Linked DNA regions of Homo sapiens: region 1 is linked to region 2. A link means that fine-mapping ties the variant in region 2 to the expression of a gene that starts in the linked region. Tissue or cell type: blood mononuclear cells. Region 2 holds a variant in brackets; the other region holds the start of a gene. All regions are shown on one strand. Distances are from middle to middle.

What was found. PIP is the estimated chance that this variant, and not a neighbour inherited with it, causes the effect.
Region 1: WSB2 starts here. The variant in region 2 is fine-mapped to the expression of WSB2 in blood mononuclear cells (TOPMed, PIP above 0.99). The same link has a PIP of 0.9 or more in whole blood.

The regions. Positions count from the first base shown.
Region 1 is chr12:118,056,457-118,064,546 of GRCh38, reverse strand. It overlaps WSB2 (WD repeat and SOCS box containing 2), which reads left to right and starts at 3,368. Exons shown (of 9, transcript NM_018639.5): 1 at 3,368-3,511. The coding sequence starts at 3,499. It overlaps VSIG10 (V-set and immunoglobulin domain containing 10), which reads left to right. Exons shown (of 9, transcript NM_019086.6): 9 at 1-954. LOC124903030 (a long non-coding RNA gene) reads right to left here and starts at 3,087. Exons shown (of 2, transcript XR_007063479.1): 1 at 2,867-3,087. RefSeq lists a silencer at 3,909-3,958.
Region 2 is chr12:117,931,125-117,939,228 of GRCh38, reverse strand. The region is part of intron 1 of KSR2 (kinase suppressor of ras 2); the gene reads left to right. Among named protein-coding and RNA genes, the nearest start is that of KSR2, 34 kb to the left of the region's middle. The variant C/T (reference allele first, on the strand shown) is at 3,607.

The sequences.
Region 1 (8,090 bases), 130 kb before region 2:
CTTTAGAGTCTTCGGCAACCAAATTCCAGAATTGAAGAGTCTACTACTCAGAGGCAACAAGATTAAAAAAAGAAAACACAAAAACTGTTGAGGTGAAAAAAAAAAAAAACCCTAGCTAGGAACACAGAGAATGTTTTGTAGGATCACTGGGATATTTTCCACAACTTCCTCTTCTCTAGCACACACATCTGTTGATAGGAAATATTTGAGGGTTTTTCCACTACCAAATGGGAGCTTCATGGTCCTGGTGTCAAACACTATAAACCTTTGACCAGCTGAGCTGTGACTGCTGTCACATATCTGAGTCCTGTGTGCACAGTAATATCCTGGGTCAGGTAAAATCCAGGTCTTCAAGTTTTAAGGATTTTTTGAAGAATTCGGGCTTCTTTAAGACGATCCATGCCCAAATCCACAAGCTTGTTGACAGTGGATTACAGTTTGTGTGGCAAAGTCCAAGTTGTTACACTGTGCTTTAAAAAAAATCTTATCTGCATGTATTGTTAACTTAGAGACCATGAGATCTATTTATCAGGACCAGGAAGATACACACTTCAGGTCCATTGCAACTGACTTTTTTCTTGTTTTTCTCAAACCCTGGTGGAGCCTGGGAAGGGGGCCTCCACAATTCTGTGGCTTTGATATTAGCCCCAATTCTCACAAGCACATACAAGCCCCATAATTGCCGCAGGAAAACACAAGATGGAAAATTGCAATAACCCATGCACTGAGACTTAGAAAATCATCCTTACTAGGCAAAATGTATTATGATGCAATAAGTGCCAACTGATATTTCTCACGTTGGGACTGGCCAGGAACTGCTGCAAAGAAAAATAAGCAGCTCCTTCTCCATTATTTACATTTTAAGATGTGGTGGGGGGAGGTTGGGAGAAATTAGTTCTGAGGTTATCATATGCCTTTTTTAAAAGATAATGGAATAAAGCTATTTTTAAGTAAGTGCTTTTGTGATCTTGATTGAGACCTGGTTAGTAAATTGAAAGACTTGGAAAAACGAACTTGCCAAAAAAAATTTTTTTTACTAGCTTTTTAAAAATTGGTAACAATATTCTTCTCACCTCAGCCCCGCCTTTTTTGTTTTTTTTTTTTTTTTTTCCTCCAGACGGAGCCTCCATCACCCAGGCTGGTGTGCAATGGCAAGATCTCAGCTCACTGCAACCTCCACCTCCTGGGTTCAAGTGATTCTCCTGCCTCAGTCTCCCGAGTAGCCGGGTTTACAGGTGCCCGCCACCACACCCAGCTAATTTTTGTATTTTTAGTAGAGATTGGGTTTGGCCATATCGGCCAGGCTGGTCTCGAACTCCTGACCTCAGGTGATCTGCCCGCCTTGGCCTCCCAAAGTGCTGGGATTACAGGCATGAGCCATCGCGCCCCGCGACCTTACCCTTTTATTCTTTTCCATGACGTGTACATAAAAACGAGGCCTGTAAGACTCCAGGAATCGAAGGAATTTGGGAGACAAAAAATGGAGACTCAGAAAATTAGAGAAGAGAAAAATGGGAGGGGGGAGCCTGGACAATAAAACGGGGGTCCTCAGGAGGCAGGAAATTAGCGATTAAATGGGAGCAGAGGTGGAGGAGGCCGACACTGGTGCCAGAGATAAAAGTGGAGTCCCAAAAAAAGGGGTGCGCTGGGCCGTTTTTAAAATTGGGAAACATAAAAAATACCCAGTGGAAAATGAAGAGAGAGAACGGGGCATGCTAAAGTTAACATGGGCGGCGAGAAAGGGACAGGTAGCCAGCGGAAAAGGGGGAGACTGAGAAACCGGCAGGTTCAAAGAAAAGAAAAAAAAAAACCGGCCAAGCGGGGTGAACAGGAGTGTAACCCAGGAGGCCAAACGGGACACAGGAAGGACGTACCCAGGGCTCATAAAACAGGGGCCTGGGTAAAAAAACCCGAAACATTAAAACGGAGAGACCATGGTGAAAAAGAACACGGGAACCTCAGTTACCGTAGAAAACATAGGTTGCGTTAGGAAGCAAAGAAATTTAAAATGGAACCACTGCGATCCGGAGCTCTGGGACCAGTGACCGGCAAATGGAGAGGGCACTTGGAGGGAAGCGAAGAAAGGCGGGGAGAAAGGAATGAGAGGCGGGAGAGTGACTTGAATGAAGCTGACACCAAGAACCGCGGGAAGAGCTTGGGCCCAAAGCAGGAAAGGGAAGCGCTCGAGTTGGGGGTAAGGGGAGGCATTTTGGGGACAATGAGCTGAGCTCAGTAAGAAATCCCCAAGCCACTGATACTACTGGGGACCGGACAACTAAGAAATGGGGTCTTTCAGGCATGAAAAGCCTCCATGATGACTCCTGCCCTGGCCCTGGAATGTTAAAAAGGGGGCGTCTGACCCAAGCGAGCCATTTCTTGAGGCTATGCGGGTAGACAGGGAGAGCAGGTTTCTCAGGGGGACGGGGACAGGCGAGGCTGTCGCCGTAGGTAGGTAAGGGGACAGTCTTCTTCCGAATCGCTCCTGCCCCGTTTTTTATCTCGTTCCCACCCCCACTCCGGTTTTCACCCTGCCCTCCTCTCCCCACCGCCCCGTGTTCTCCTCACTTCCCTCTCCCATTACCGGAGCCATTGAGTAGCCCCCCTTGTTTTACCCTAGCCTTGACCCTCGCCGCACCCCCCAATTCTTACGTCCTCCCCAGCACCCGGTTATTACACCTTCCTTCCACCCCCTCCCCATTTTCCCCTAAGCCCAGCTCTCCCCAGGTTTCTTCTCGGCCAGTATTCCCTCCAACCTATTTCTCCCGCCCCCATTTTTACCCGTTTCCCCCCTCATCGGCCTTCGCATGGCTCCATTTTCACCTGCCCCTCCCCTCGATTTCGCTTCAGCCCCTTTGGTTCCCCTTACCCCCACAGCCCTCGGTCTCCCTCTCTCCGTTCTCCCCGGATCGCCGCTTCCCCTGCTTGGTTTTTCTCTCAGCCCGGCTCTACCACTCTCCAACACCCCCTTTTCCCCTGAGCCCGGCTTCCCCTACTCCGGTTTCTATCGCTCCCCTTTTCCCGGTTTCCCTCAGCTCTGTTCACCTCCCTCCCTTCCCCGTTTTTATCCGGCGCTGGTTCCCCTCAGGACCCCGCACAACCCCTGGGTTTTATCCCGTTCGCGCCCCACCCCGTTTCCGCTCAGCTCCCCCCACCCCTGCCCCATTTTTATCTGGTTCGCGCGTCTTCCCCGCCCCCGTTTCCCCTGAGCAACCCCTCAGCTTTTATCCCGTCAGCGTACCGCCTCCCCGATTTTCCATCTTTTCCCTCAGCTGCCCCCCACCGTTTTTATCCCGTCCGCACCCCCCCTCCGTTTCCCCTGCGCCCCGCCCCCGCGCGTCTCCGCCCGCGCCCACCGCCATGTGACGGGAAGCAGCTGATGGCCTCTCCGGGCGGCGGCGGCGGCCTGGCCGGGGCGGGCGGCGCGGGGGCGGCATGAGGGCCCGCGGCCCGGGGGGCTGAGGCGCCCGCCGCCTGCCGCGGGGGCCGCTCGCGTCCTCCATGGAGGCCGGAGGTGAGTGGGGCCGGGCGCGCCCGTTCCCGCCCGGCGGGGCCCTGGCCCGTTCTCCCCGGGGAGGGGGGAGGCGACCCCGGGGCGGGCTGGGCGGGGTGGGGCGGGGGCTGGACGCGGCGGGGGCGTCCGGCCTGGGAGGTCCGCGCGGGGCCGGCGGGGGTGCGCGCCCGGCGACCAGCTTTGTTTCACTTTCGTTGTCAGTGGCCGCCACCCTGACTCCCGCCGGCGACAGGATCGGGAAGATCGGGCTTCTGCGGGAGGAGATCCCCCGACCGGGACAGAGGGGGCTCCCGGGTGGGACTCGGGGCGGGGGGCACCAAGCCCTAAAACGGAGATCCCCAAGGGGGTGGGTGCCCCTGGGTACCCAGGTGCCAGGGGACGCACTTGCATGTCTGGATGGGAGTCACCTCTGTCCCTCACAAGCTGTGTGATCGTGACAGTGGACAAGCCACTGAACCACCGCCACCCACGTCTCAGTTTTGATCTGCAAAATGGGATAATCCTAGTACCTTCCTCGGAGGGTGGCTGGGACCCGGTAAAAATGGGGTCTGGGGTCTGGGTTCCCTATTGAAACAATCTATTCCCAGCCTCTCCCACTGGAGATTAAGTCAGTGGAGGTGGGGCGGGACTGGAGACGCTGATCCCTGGTGACATGTATGATCAGGCAAATTTAGGATACACTGATGGGTGGGGACCTTGCCTCTATTCTTGTTAACTGCCATCCCCATCAGAAGACAGCGTGGAAGTCAGAGGATATTGGATATACCTCAAGCCAGCCCAGATGAACATAAAATCTCAGTGGGAAAGGTGTGTCTCTTATGCAAGGGGAAAAAAACCCCAAGACGCATGCACGCCTTGGCCCTCTCCCCTCCAACGACCTTCCCTCGGAACCCCACTTGGGATAGATTTAGAATTGATTCCGGGAGTCCCAGGTCTTGAAGGACCCGAGTTTAAATGTAATTTCCTTAGGAGAAATTTTCAGAGCAGGTTCAAGGCCTAGGGCTCAGAATTTGTTCCAGAACTTCATGGTAATCTTGCAGCCAAGTTCAAGCTTCATCCTGGTCTGGAGGGTTCTGATTGCTGATGGCTTGTTACTGTGGGTGGGAAGGTTGAAATCTGGGTATTCCCTGGGGTGGTGTTACTTTTTAATTTAGGAAATGACATTTCTTTGTTTGCTGAAGTCAGGCATTGAGTTAAAGGCAGCTCTCTCTCCTTCCCATCTAGATAAGGGCTTTCTTTTCAGTGAGTGTTACCCGTAGAATTCTTTTTAAAAGGGCCCCTACTGTTTGTGTAGATCCTATGTGAATCTTTTTATAGCTTCCGTTTGATTTCCATTGCCTCCTTACAGTTCAATCTGAAAGCAATCTGTAGCTAGCCTGCCTTTTTAACAGAAATCTGTTTCCAGTTCTGGGGTTTTCCTAAAGATTGACAACTTCGTTTTGAGGGTGTGGGCAGGGTTGTTGAGAGCTGCCAAGTTACTGTACAAAAAAGGCCAGAGTTTTAACTTATTTTCAAATGGAATAAAGCCCATTGTAAAGGAAATACAATGGGCAACAGTTGAAATCTTCAGAGCAATGGTTAGACTTCACTTATTCATTCAGCAAATATTTGTTGAACGTCTACTATGTGCCAGGCACCCTCTAGGCCAGCCCCGACCAACAGAAGTCTAATGTGAGCCACGTATGTAATTTAAAATGTTCAAGTAGCCACATTAAAAAAAAGAAAAAAGAACTAGGTGACAATTTAAAAACTCTTTCAATACAACATGTCTAAAATATTCCTGCTACATGTAATCAAATAAATTGTAATGTAATGTTTTAGATTTTTTTTTGTGCTAAGTGTTCAAAACGTGTTGTGTATTTTTTACTTACAGCCCATCTGAATTCTGACTTGCCACATTTCAAGTGGTTGGTAACCACATGTGATTTCCCTATTAGACAGTGTAGCCCAATAGCAGTGAACTGGCAAGTTTGGGTGGGTTCAGAAAGAGACAGACAATAAATACGTAAAAATGACAGGCAATCAAGAAAATATCAACCAAATGCGCCGGGGTGGCTCACGTCTGTAATCTCAGCACTTTGGGAGGCTGAGGCGGGCAGATCACTTGAGGCCAGGAGTTCGAGACCAGCCTCACCAACATAATGAAACTCCGTCTCTACTAAAAATACAAAATTAACCAGGCGTGGTGGTGCATACCTGTAATCCCAGCTACTCAGGAGGCTGAGGCAGGAGAACCGCTTGAACTGGAGAGGTGGAGGTTGCAGTGAACCAAGATCTCGCCATTGCACTCCAGCCTGGGCAACAAGAGTGAAACTCCATCTCAAAAAAAAAAAAAGAAGAAGAAAATATCTAAGTGATGGTTATAAAGAAAATCAAATGGTTAAAGGAAAGTGAATGGTGCCAGGCGCAGTGGCCCAGCAGTTTGGGAGGCCAACTTGGGTAGATCACTTGAGCTCAGGAGTTTGAGACCAGTCTAGGCAGCATGGCAAAACCCCATCTCTGCAAAAAATACCGAACTATAGGCGCGTGCATGGTAGAATGTGCCTGTAGTCCCAGCTACTGGGGAGGCTGAGATGGGAGGATCATCTGAGCCTGGGGAGGTCGAGGTTGCAGTGAGCCGTGATGGTGCTACTGCATTCCAGCCTGGGCAACAGAGCAAGACCCTGTCTCAAAAAAAATAAAAAATAAAAAAGGAAAGTGTATGGTCGCTTTAGATAGTGAGGCCAGGATGGTCTCTGAGAAGGTGACATGAGGACCAATCCCTGAATGATAAGATGGAGCAACTGAGGAAAGCTTTTGAGGCCGGTGGAATATCTAATGTACATGTCCTGATACAGGAAAAATCACCTAGCTTCCTGCTGGCTGGGGTCATAGCTTTCATCTCTGTGTTAAGGCTAACTGCTTTGCCTAGAAGAGGCTTATAATATATACCTTTCCATTCAGCCTGATTGTCCAAACACATCCCATTGTTTAATTAGAACACCCTGATCCAGGGCCAGGTGCAATGGCTCATGCCTGCAGGAGAATCGCTTGAGCTCAGGAGATCAAAACCAGCTTGGTCAACATAGCCAGACCCCCATCTCTACTAAAAATTTAATTTAAAAAAAAAAAAAATGCTGAGTGTGGTGGTACGCCCCCGTAGCCCGATACACAGGAGGCTGAGGCGGGAGGATCACTTGAATCTGGGTGGGAGATTGAGGCTGCAGTGAGCTGTGATTCAGCCACTGCACCCCAGCCTGGGTCTCAAAAAAAAAAAAAACCCAAATATATATATGAATATGATATACTTGAAATTTGCTAAGAGTAGATTTTAAGTGTTCTCACCACACAAAAATAAGTATGTGAGGTAATGCATATATGGTAATGAGCTTGACTGAGCCATTCCACAATGTATACATATATCAAAACATGTTATATTCCATAATATATACAATTTTTATTTATCAGTTTAAAAAAGAAGAGGCTGGACGCGGTGACTCACGCCTGCAATCCCAGCACTTTGGGAGGCCGAGGTGGGCAGATCACCTGAGGTCAGGAGTTCGAGACCAGCCTGGCCAAAATGGTGAAACCCCATCTCTACTAAAAATACAAAAATTAGCCAGGTGTGGTGGCGCATGCCTGTAATTCTAGCTACTCGGGAGGCTGAGGCAGGAGAATCACTTGAACCCAGGGGGCGGAGGTTGCAATGAGCCGAGATGGCGCCACTGCACTCCAGCCTGGGCAGCAGAGTGAGACTCTGTCTCAAAAAAAAAAGGAGAAAACAAAGAAACCCTGATTCATAGGCCTTTTCACCAAGAAGGATCTACAAGTACCATACCAGTTGAAGCTAGATACCCCACCCCCAGCTCTGTTTTTGTTTGTTTGTTTTGTTTTTAAGTTCTGCACTAATTAGGGCTTTCTCTCCGTGTAGCCAAGTTTAGTTTGGGCCCAGACTCCAAGAGACAGGAGTCACTGGGTTTGTTCTTCTTTTAGCTCCTGGATTCCTGAACCTGAAATAGCAAGAGATTAAATCCCTAAATCACAGAAATAGAGTGTGAATTCTGAGTAGGGCTTGTGTTTAAGAAGCATTTCATGTGAAATGTTTGGCATAAGCATCATCAGAGTTTAAGGGGCTTTATTTATTTTTTATTTTTTGGGGACAGAGTCTTGCTCTGTCACCCAGGCTGGAGTACAGTGGTGCAATCTTGGCTCACTGCAACCTGCACCTCCCGGGTTCAAGTGATTCTCCTGCCTCAGCCTCCCGAGTAGCTGCGACTACAGGCGCCCGCCACTATGCCCGGCTAATTTTTGTATTTTAAGTAGAGACGGGGTTTCACCACGTTGGCCAGGCTGGTCTTGAACTCCTGGCCCCAAGTGACCTGCCTGCCTCGGCCTCCCAAAGTGTTGGGATTACAAGCATGAGCTACCATGCCTGGCCAGCTTTATGTTACTTTTTTGTTTAAAGAGTTATACCATATGTATTTATTAGACAAATATTTACTCACTGCCTGCCCTCCACCAGGAACTCTGCCAGCTCTGGGGATAAATATACAAAGTTCTTGCTCCCTGGAGTTGATATCCTAGTGGAGGGGAGACAGAT
Region 2 (8,104 bases):
TATGTTTTAAGCACAACCAGTGCTATTGTCATACCAACAATTCCTCAATCAGGTATTTCCTGAAACAACAAAATGAAATATTTATACACAAAAGAGGACTGTATTTATTGAAGTCGTCACTGTGATTATATCTGCCTTGCCCTAGCTCTGCTGACAGTACTTAAAATATTCTTACACGCTGTCTTCAGTCACTTTACAGGAAAACAAGTCTATTTACTTTCCTTTTTTTTTTTTTGACCCCAGATGGTAGCATTTACTGTGTCTGCTTGACTGATTCCCAGTGATTTTTGTTCATTTAAAATGCATAAATAGTCCAGTCCACTCTTAACAAGATGTGCTGCCATTGATGATGATCACGATAATGTTCTGGACACGGTATCTGAAAGGGAACTCAAGAAGCAGCGTCATAGCTTTGGTGTTGGGATAAGAATTCAGCCATTTATAATGTCTACTTGGTGGTTATTTTTGTTTGTTTGTTTAGAGACAGTTTTGCTCTGTTGCCTAGGCTGGGGTGCAGTGGCATGATTATGGGCTCACTGCAGCCTTGAACTCTTGGGCTCAAGTGATCTTCCTGCCTCAGCCTCCTGAGTAGTTAGGACTATTGGGGTACACCACCATGCCCGGTTAATTTTTTTTTTTGCCTTTATTTATTTATTTATTTATTTATTATTATTATACTTTAAGTTTTAGGGTACATGTGCACAATGTGCAGGTTAGTTACATATTTTTAAATTTTTTGTAGAAATGAGGTCTCTCTATGTTGCCTAGGCTGATCTCGAACCTCTGGACTCAAGCGATCCTCCCACCTCTGTCTCTCAAAGTGCTGGGATTACAGGCATGAGCCCCCACACCTGGCCTATGATGTCTGCTTTGAAAGGCAAGCTGGTTGTTGAGCTCAGCATTCATTCAGTCCTTCATTTATTCCACTTTACGTTAAATGCATTAGATACACAAATGTCAGTCTGGCATGTGTGGAAATAATGATGTACAAATATGTGTTGCACGTCAGGCACCGTGCTGGGTACTGGGACACAGAATACATGCCTTCACGTCGTGGATCTGGTGACGTGATGCTAAAGCGAAGACCTGAAGGATGACAGCATTAGCTAGAGACGAGGAAAGGGTGTTCCAAGCAGCAGGAACAGTATGCACAAATGCCAAGAGTTAGGAGATAGCATGGGGCATTTGAGGAACCAAATGAAGTCCAACATGGGAGGAGTCTAATATGTTTCAGGCTTTTTTTTTTTTTTTTTTTTTCTTGAGACAGAGTCTGTCTTTGTTGCTCAGGCTGGAGTGCAGTGGCACTGTCTTGGCTCACTGCAACCTCTGCTTCCTGGTTCAAGAGATTCTCCTGCCTCAGCCTCCCGAGTAGCTGGGATTACAGGCGTGCACTGCCACGCCTGGCTAATTTTTTTTTTTTTTTGTATTTTTAGTAGAGATGGGGGTTTCTCCATGTTGCCCAGGCTGGTCTCGAACTCCTGACCTCAAGTGATCCACCCGCCTCAGCCTCCCAAAGTGCTGGGATTACAGGGGTGAGCCACTGTGCCTGGCTCAGGCTCATCTGGAGACAAAGGGATAGGACCACATATTTTCCTGTCTTTAAACTGGGTTCCTTTGCGTCTCCTTCCTGCCTCATCTCCTTATTATAGGAAAATAAGGCAGTCTCATTTGCCAAATTGAATCAAACTCTCTAATATATGATCTCCACTTCTCAAATATGATTTGAAAGTATAACATTAATTTATTGGTCCCCTAAGGTAGAGGCAGGTTCTTTAACACCAGAACAAACACAAGCCACTTCATAATGATAATAATAGTAATAATAATAATAATAGATGGGCAAGATCTTGAGAAGGGTAGGGTGGAGGGAGGGGAAATAAAGCCAGGAGAAAAGAGGTGGTGAAACGGAAATACATTTGAAATCTCCTGCTTTGTGGTTTATGATTAACAGCAGGGCAGAAAATGTCTCTGCAGAGTTATGAAAAATTCATTGGTAGCATGCTACAGGTCTGAGAAGCTGGTCATTGTTTGATCAGATTAACTATAATAAGAGCAGTCTTAAATTAACTCAGATTAAGAGGAGAACTTTCCCCCGCTACTATTTAGTCATATGTGTATAATCACATTTCCTTGCAGCCGGTTGCCCCTAGTTGTCTGCTAAGACGGTAGCTGGGGTCTTCAGTAAGGTGGAACCAAGAGGGGAGAGGGTGGGCTGAGCCCAGATACCACCTTGAGGCTGGGGGCAGATGGAGGAGGCGTCCCTGGGCACCCTCTGGGCTCTGGCTCATGTTTGTCTAGTCTCCCAGACACCACCCTTCTGTTTTTCAGACCTGTTTCCTTTTTCCTGGGTCAGCTTCATCCCAGCTTATGGTTTCCCAGTATGGGGCACCTGCCATGTGCCGTGCAATGTTCTAGGTGCTAGGGATATATGTCTGAGAGCAAAACAGGCTAAGAGCCCTGTGCTCTTGTAGCTCACATTCTAGGTGGGGGAGACAGACAACAAACAAATAAAAGCTGTTTTCACAGTCACTGAATAGGGAAGCTGGCCAGGCACAGCGGCTCATGCCTCTAATCCCAGCATTTTGGGAGGCCAAGATGGGACCATCTCTCAGGAGTTCAAGACCAGCCTGAGCAACAAAGCGAGACCCTGTCTCTACTACTACTACTACTACTACTACTACTACTACTACTACTAATAATAATAATAATAATAATAAAATAATAATAATGATAAAGTAGCCAGGCATGGTGGTGTGCACCTGTAGTCCCAGCTACTCTGGAGGCCGAGGTGGGAGGATCACATGAGCACAGGAATTTGCAGCTGCAGTGAGCCATGCTTGTGCCATTGCATTCCAGCGTGGGCAACAGATTGAGACCGTGTCTTAAAAATAAAATAATTTAGGCCTGGTGTGGTGGCTCATGCCTGTAATCCTAGCACTTTGGGAGGTCAAGGCAGGCAGATCGCTTGAACTCAGGAGTTCAAGATTAGCCTGGGCAACATGGCAAAACATCATCTTTATGAAAAATTAGCTGGACATGGTGGCTCTTGCCCGTGGTCCCAACTACTCAGGAGGCTGAGGTGGGAGGATCACTTGAGCCTGGGAGGCAGAGTTGCAGTGAGCTGAGATCACACCACTGTACTCCAGCCTGGGTGACAGAGAAAGACCCTGTCTCAAAAAAAAAAAGTTCAATAAATGGAATAAGGAAGCTATCAAGGATGATAGAAGGTGACAAGTACTATGGAAAAAAGAAAAAAGCAGAGCAGGCTTCATGAAAAAGGTGACATTTGAGCAAAGACTTAAAGGAACTGAGGGAGTGATCCCGGGGACCTCTGGGGGGAAAAGCACTCAGAGAGAGGCCACCGCATGTGCCAAGCCCCTGAGGTGTCTGAGGAACAGCTAGGAAGCTTGTGTGACCAGAGTGGAGTGGGACCAGATCATGAGAGCCTTTATTTATTATTTATTTATTTGAGACTGAGTCTCACACTGTTGCCCAGGCTGGAGTGCAGTAGCGCAATCTTGGCTCACTGCAATCTCCACCTCCCTGTTCAAGCAATTCTTATGCCTCAGCCTCCTGAGTAGCTAGGATCACAGGCGCCCACTACTA[C/T]GACCGGCTAACTTTTGTATTTTTAGTAGAGGTGGGGTTTCACCATGTTGGCTGGGCTGGTCTCGAACTCCTGACCTCAAATGATCCACCCACCTCGGCCTCCCAAAAGTGCTGGGATTACAGGCATGAACCACCATGCCCGGCCCATGAGAGCTTTTGAGACCAGTGTAAACATTTTACCCCATGAAATGAACACATTGGAGGGTTTTGAGCAGAGGAAGAGTGGGATCTGACTTCAGTTTTAGCAGCATCTTTCTAGTCACTGGTTGAGAACAGACTCTAGGGGCCTGAATAGAAGCAGGTGGATGAGTCAGAAGACTGCAAGCAGGGTGTGGTGGTGCATGCCTATGATTCCAGCTACTTGGGAGGCTGAGGAGGGAGGATTGCTCGAGCCAGGAGGTCAAGGCTGCAGTGAGCTGTGATCGGGCCATTGCACTCTAGCCTGGGCAACAGAGCAAGACAAGACCCTGTGTGAAAAAAGAAGAAGAATAAGAAGGCAGGGCAAGGTGGCTCAGACCTGTAATCCCAGCGCTTTGGGAGGTTGAAGCAGGAGGATCACTTGAACCCAGGAGTTTGAGACCAGCCTGGGCAAGGTAGCAAGAGCCTGTCTCTACAAAAAATTTTTAAAAATTAGCTGGGTGTGGTGGTGCATGCCTGTGGTTCCAGCTACTCAGGAGGCTGAGGTGGGAGGATCCCTTGAACCCAGGAGTTCAAGGCTGCAGTGAGCCATGCTCGTACCACTGCACTCCAGCCTGGGTGACAGAGCAAGACTCTGTCTCAAAAAGAAAAAAATTTAAAATATAAATAGAAGAAGAAGACGACTGTGGCTTGCACCAGGCCGGTGAGCCATGGTTGGATTTTGGTTATATTTAGAACTTAGAGTGAACAGGATTTCCAGATGTTTTTGACCTTGCCTGTTGACTGATAGAAAATGTGATGATATTCACTGATTGTATTCATCTGAGCCCCTTTGTTTGCGAGTGTGAGAAACTTATCTCAAACTGGTTCAACAAAAATGGGGAGTTCTTTGGCTTGTGGGACTGAGATGTTTATGGGTAGCACTGGCTTCAGCGTGGCTAGATCCAGGTACTTGACAAAGCAAAGCCTTGTCTACACCTCTCAGTTTGGCTTTCTTTCTGGATTGCTTTCATCCAAACAGCCTTTCCTTACGGTGGCAGAATGGCCACTGGAAGTGCCACACTTGCATTTTATCACCTTGCTTGTAGGAAGAGCGTGATTATTTCTCAGTGGCTCCAACAAATTTCTGGGGTATCCTATTCACCAGCCAGGAGTGCTTCATTTCTCTACTCCTGGAGTCAAAAGGGAGCGGTGTTGTCATGGGTCAGTTCTGGAGCCAGGGAGCGAGATCAGTCCCTTCCAAGCCCTGTGGACCAAGCAGGGATGTTCTCCAAACAAAAGCTGGGATGCTGTTACTCAAAGATAATGAGCTTGGCTGGAGGATACAATAGATTCTGTTGTTCCAATGTAGCCAGAATTCTTAATCCAGAATTCCAGCAAATGCAGAAAATTCTAAGTAGGGCATAAGGATCAAAAGGGTAAAGAACATATTACTAGGAATGTCTGGATATTCAGAGTGGGATGTTTCAGAGTTTGCAACGTCGGCTGGATTTAAATAATAGCTCTCCCTCCACTCATGCACTCTGAAGCCAAGTGTGGTCACACATCTGCCCTCCCATTTAAGAGGCGCCATGTATCTTTTTTGGGATGGTGAGTGGATGGAGAACTGGAGCACGGTGCTGGGTCCCAGCTCTGCCACCCTCTTGCTGTGTGTCGCTTGGGCAAGTTACATAACTTTACTGAGCCACAGGATACTGGGAGGATCAAGGGTAAGAAGATTTTAAAGTACTTGGGAAACTGTGGCCCCGCAATTTAGGGCTTGGTTGTAGTGTGCCATAACCATAAACCAAAGTACTTTATGACTTTGCTGTTTATCGGGTTTCCTGATAAAATATAGGATGCTCTTTTAAATTTGAATTTCAGATAAACAATGCATACTTTATTTTTTTTTTTGAGACAGACTCTTGCTCTGTCACCCAGGCTGGAGTGCAGTGGCATGATCTCAGCTCACTGCAAGCTCCGCCTCCCGGGTTCATGCCATTCTCCTATAGGTCAGCCTCCCAAGTAGCTGGGACCACAGGCGCCCGCCACCACACCCGGCTAATTTTTTGTATTTTCAGTAGAGACGGAGTCTCACCGTGTTAGCCAGGATGGTCTTGATCTCCTGACCTCGTGATCTGCCTGTCTCGGCCTCCCAAAGTTTTGGGATTACAGGCATGAGCCACCACGGCTGGCCAACAATGCATACATTTTTAGTATAAGTATGCTTGAATACTGCACAGAACATACTTATACTAAAAATTATTTGTTGTTTATCTGACATTCTCATTTAACCAAATGTCTTTTTATTTGCTAACTCTGGCAAATCTAGGTGATCATAACAAGTGGAATGTGTTATCACCGACCACTCATTACTAACCCCTGACAGCCACTTCATGCTAACATTGGGAAGAACCCCCAAATGGTAGACATCACTAGTATTTTCTGATTGGGTGTGCATGATCTTTTTGTTTTTATTTATTTATTTATTTTGAGACAGAGTCCCGCTCTGTCATCCAGGCTGGAGTGCGATGGCACTATCTGGGCTCACTGCAACCTCTGCCTCCCAGGTTCAAGCGATTCTCCTGCCTCAGCCTCCTGAGTAGTTGGGATTGCAGGCACCCACCACCATGCCTGGCTAATTTTTGTATTTTTAGTAGAGATGGGGTTTCACCATGTTGGTCAGGCTGGTCTCCAACTGCTGACCTCAGGTGATCTGCCCGCCTCAGCCTCCCAAAGTGTTGGGATTATGGGCGTGAGCCACTGCACCCGGCCTATTTATTTGAGACAGGATCTCACTCTGTCACCCAGGCTGGAGTGCAGTGACGTGATCACAGCTCACTGCAGCCTCGACCTCCTGGGCTCAGGTTATCCTCTCACCTCAGCCTCCTGAGTAGCTGGGACTGCAGGTGTGTGCCACCACACCTGGCTACTACTTTTTTTGTATTTTTTTGTAGAGATAGGGTTTTGCTGTATTGCCCAGGCTGGCTTTGAACTCCTGGGCTCAAGTGATCTTCCCACCTTAGCCTCCCAAAGTGCTAAAATTACAGGCATGAGCTTCTGTGCCTGGCCTGTTCTTATTTTTGACTGTAGTGTTATGATCAAGTGTGAATTCTGGAATTTGTCTGGCCTGTGCTTCTTGTGAACATATGTCAACTGTATAACACCATGATTAAGTATCATTTTAAGATAGGTTTAATTAATTAATTAAATTTTTTGAGACAGAGTCTTGCTTTTGTCACCCAAGCTGGAGTGCAGTGGCACTATCTCAGCTCAATGCAACCTCTGCCTCCTGGGTTCAAGCGATTCTCCTACCTCAGCCTCCTGAATAGCCGAGATTACAGGCGCCCACCATCATGCCCAGCTAATTTTTGTATTTTTAGTAGAGATGGGGTTTTGCCATGTTGACCAGGTTGGTCTCAAACTCCTGACCTCAGGCGATCCACCCGCCTTAGCCTCCCAAAGTGCTGGTATTACAGGCATGAGCCACCGTACCTGGCCAGGTTTAAGTTTCAGATAGCAGTGTTGTCTTTCTAAGTTATGGAGCCATAACCTTGGGCATAATGTCCTCCATGTCTTTGAATCCCCATCTGTAAAAATAGGATGTTTACCTCCTAATGTTGGCATGAGGATTAGACAATAGGTGCAAAATGCTCAGCTCAGTGTCCTGTATGTGACAGGCACTCAATGTTAACCATTGCAGTTATAGTAAATATATAGAAATTAATCTGGCTGGTCTAGAATAACCTGGGTTTGGTTTTCTGAATGAACTTCTCAGCTCTATTTGGAAATTTTCTGGTTGTATTGTTCCTATGGTTTGGGCTCCGTGCCTAGCAGACTGAATTCCTAAAGCAGAATAGCAAGATGCAGTCTTGAATCTTGACACGTATGAGCAGCTTTCAGCTCTAAATTGTTGGGAAGGGTGACGGATGGGAAGAGAGAACGTCTAGCAGTGGTTTGGACTGGGTTGTTCCTAGAATTGGTGGACATGACTGTGGCAGTCTTGACTCAAGATTGTGCCCCACATCCAGGCGGGCACGACCTCTTTAGCAAGGGAGATTGGATACAGGAGTGTGACCTGAATCCGAGCCATGGTGATGTCCTTCTTTTTGAGTCATTCTCTGAAGCCCTGGTCCCTAACTATTCTCATCTATTCTTCACCTGCAGGCCCTGAACAAATGGCTGAGATAGTTAAAAATGAATTCCCAGGTCATCAGAAGTATTCGATGGCTGCCTAGGAACAGGGCGTGGACTGGGCTAGGCCAAAGTGCTATCTGTGTCTTATGCTTGCTTCTTTTTGGTTGAGATCCTTTAAAATGAAAATATTTTTCAAGCTTGGTGTTTTTATCCATATGACACTTTGAGAGAAATGTTTTTAGAT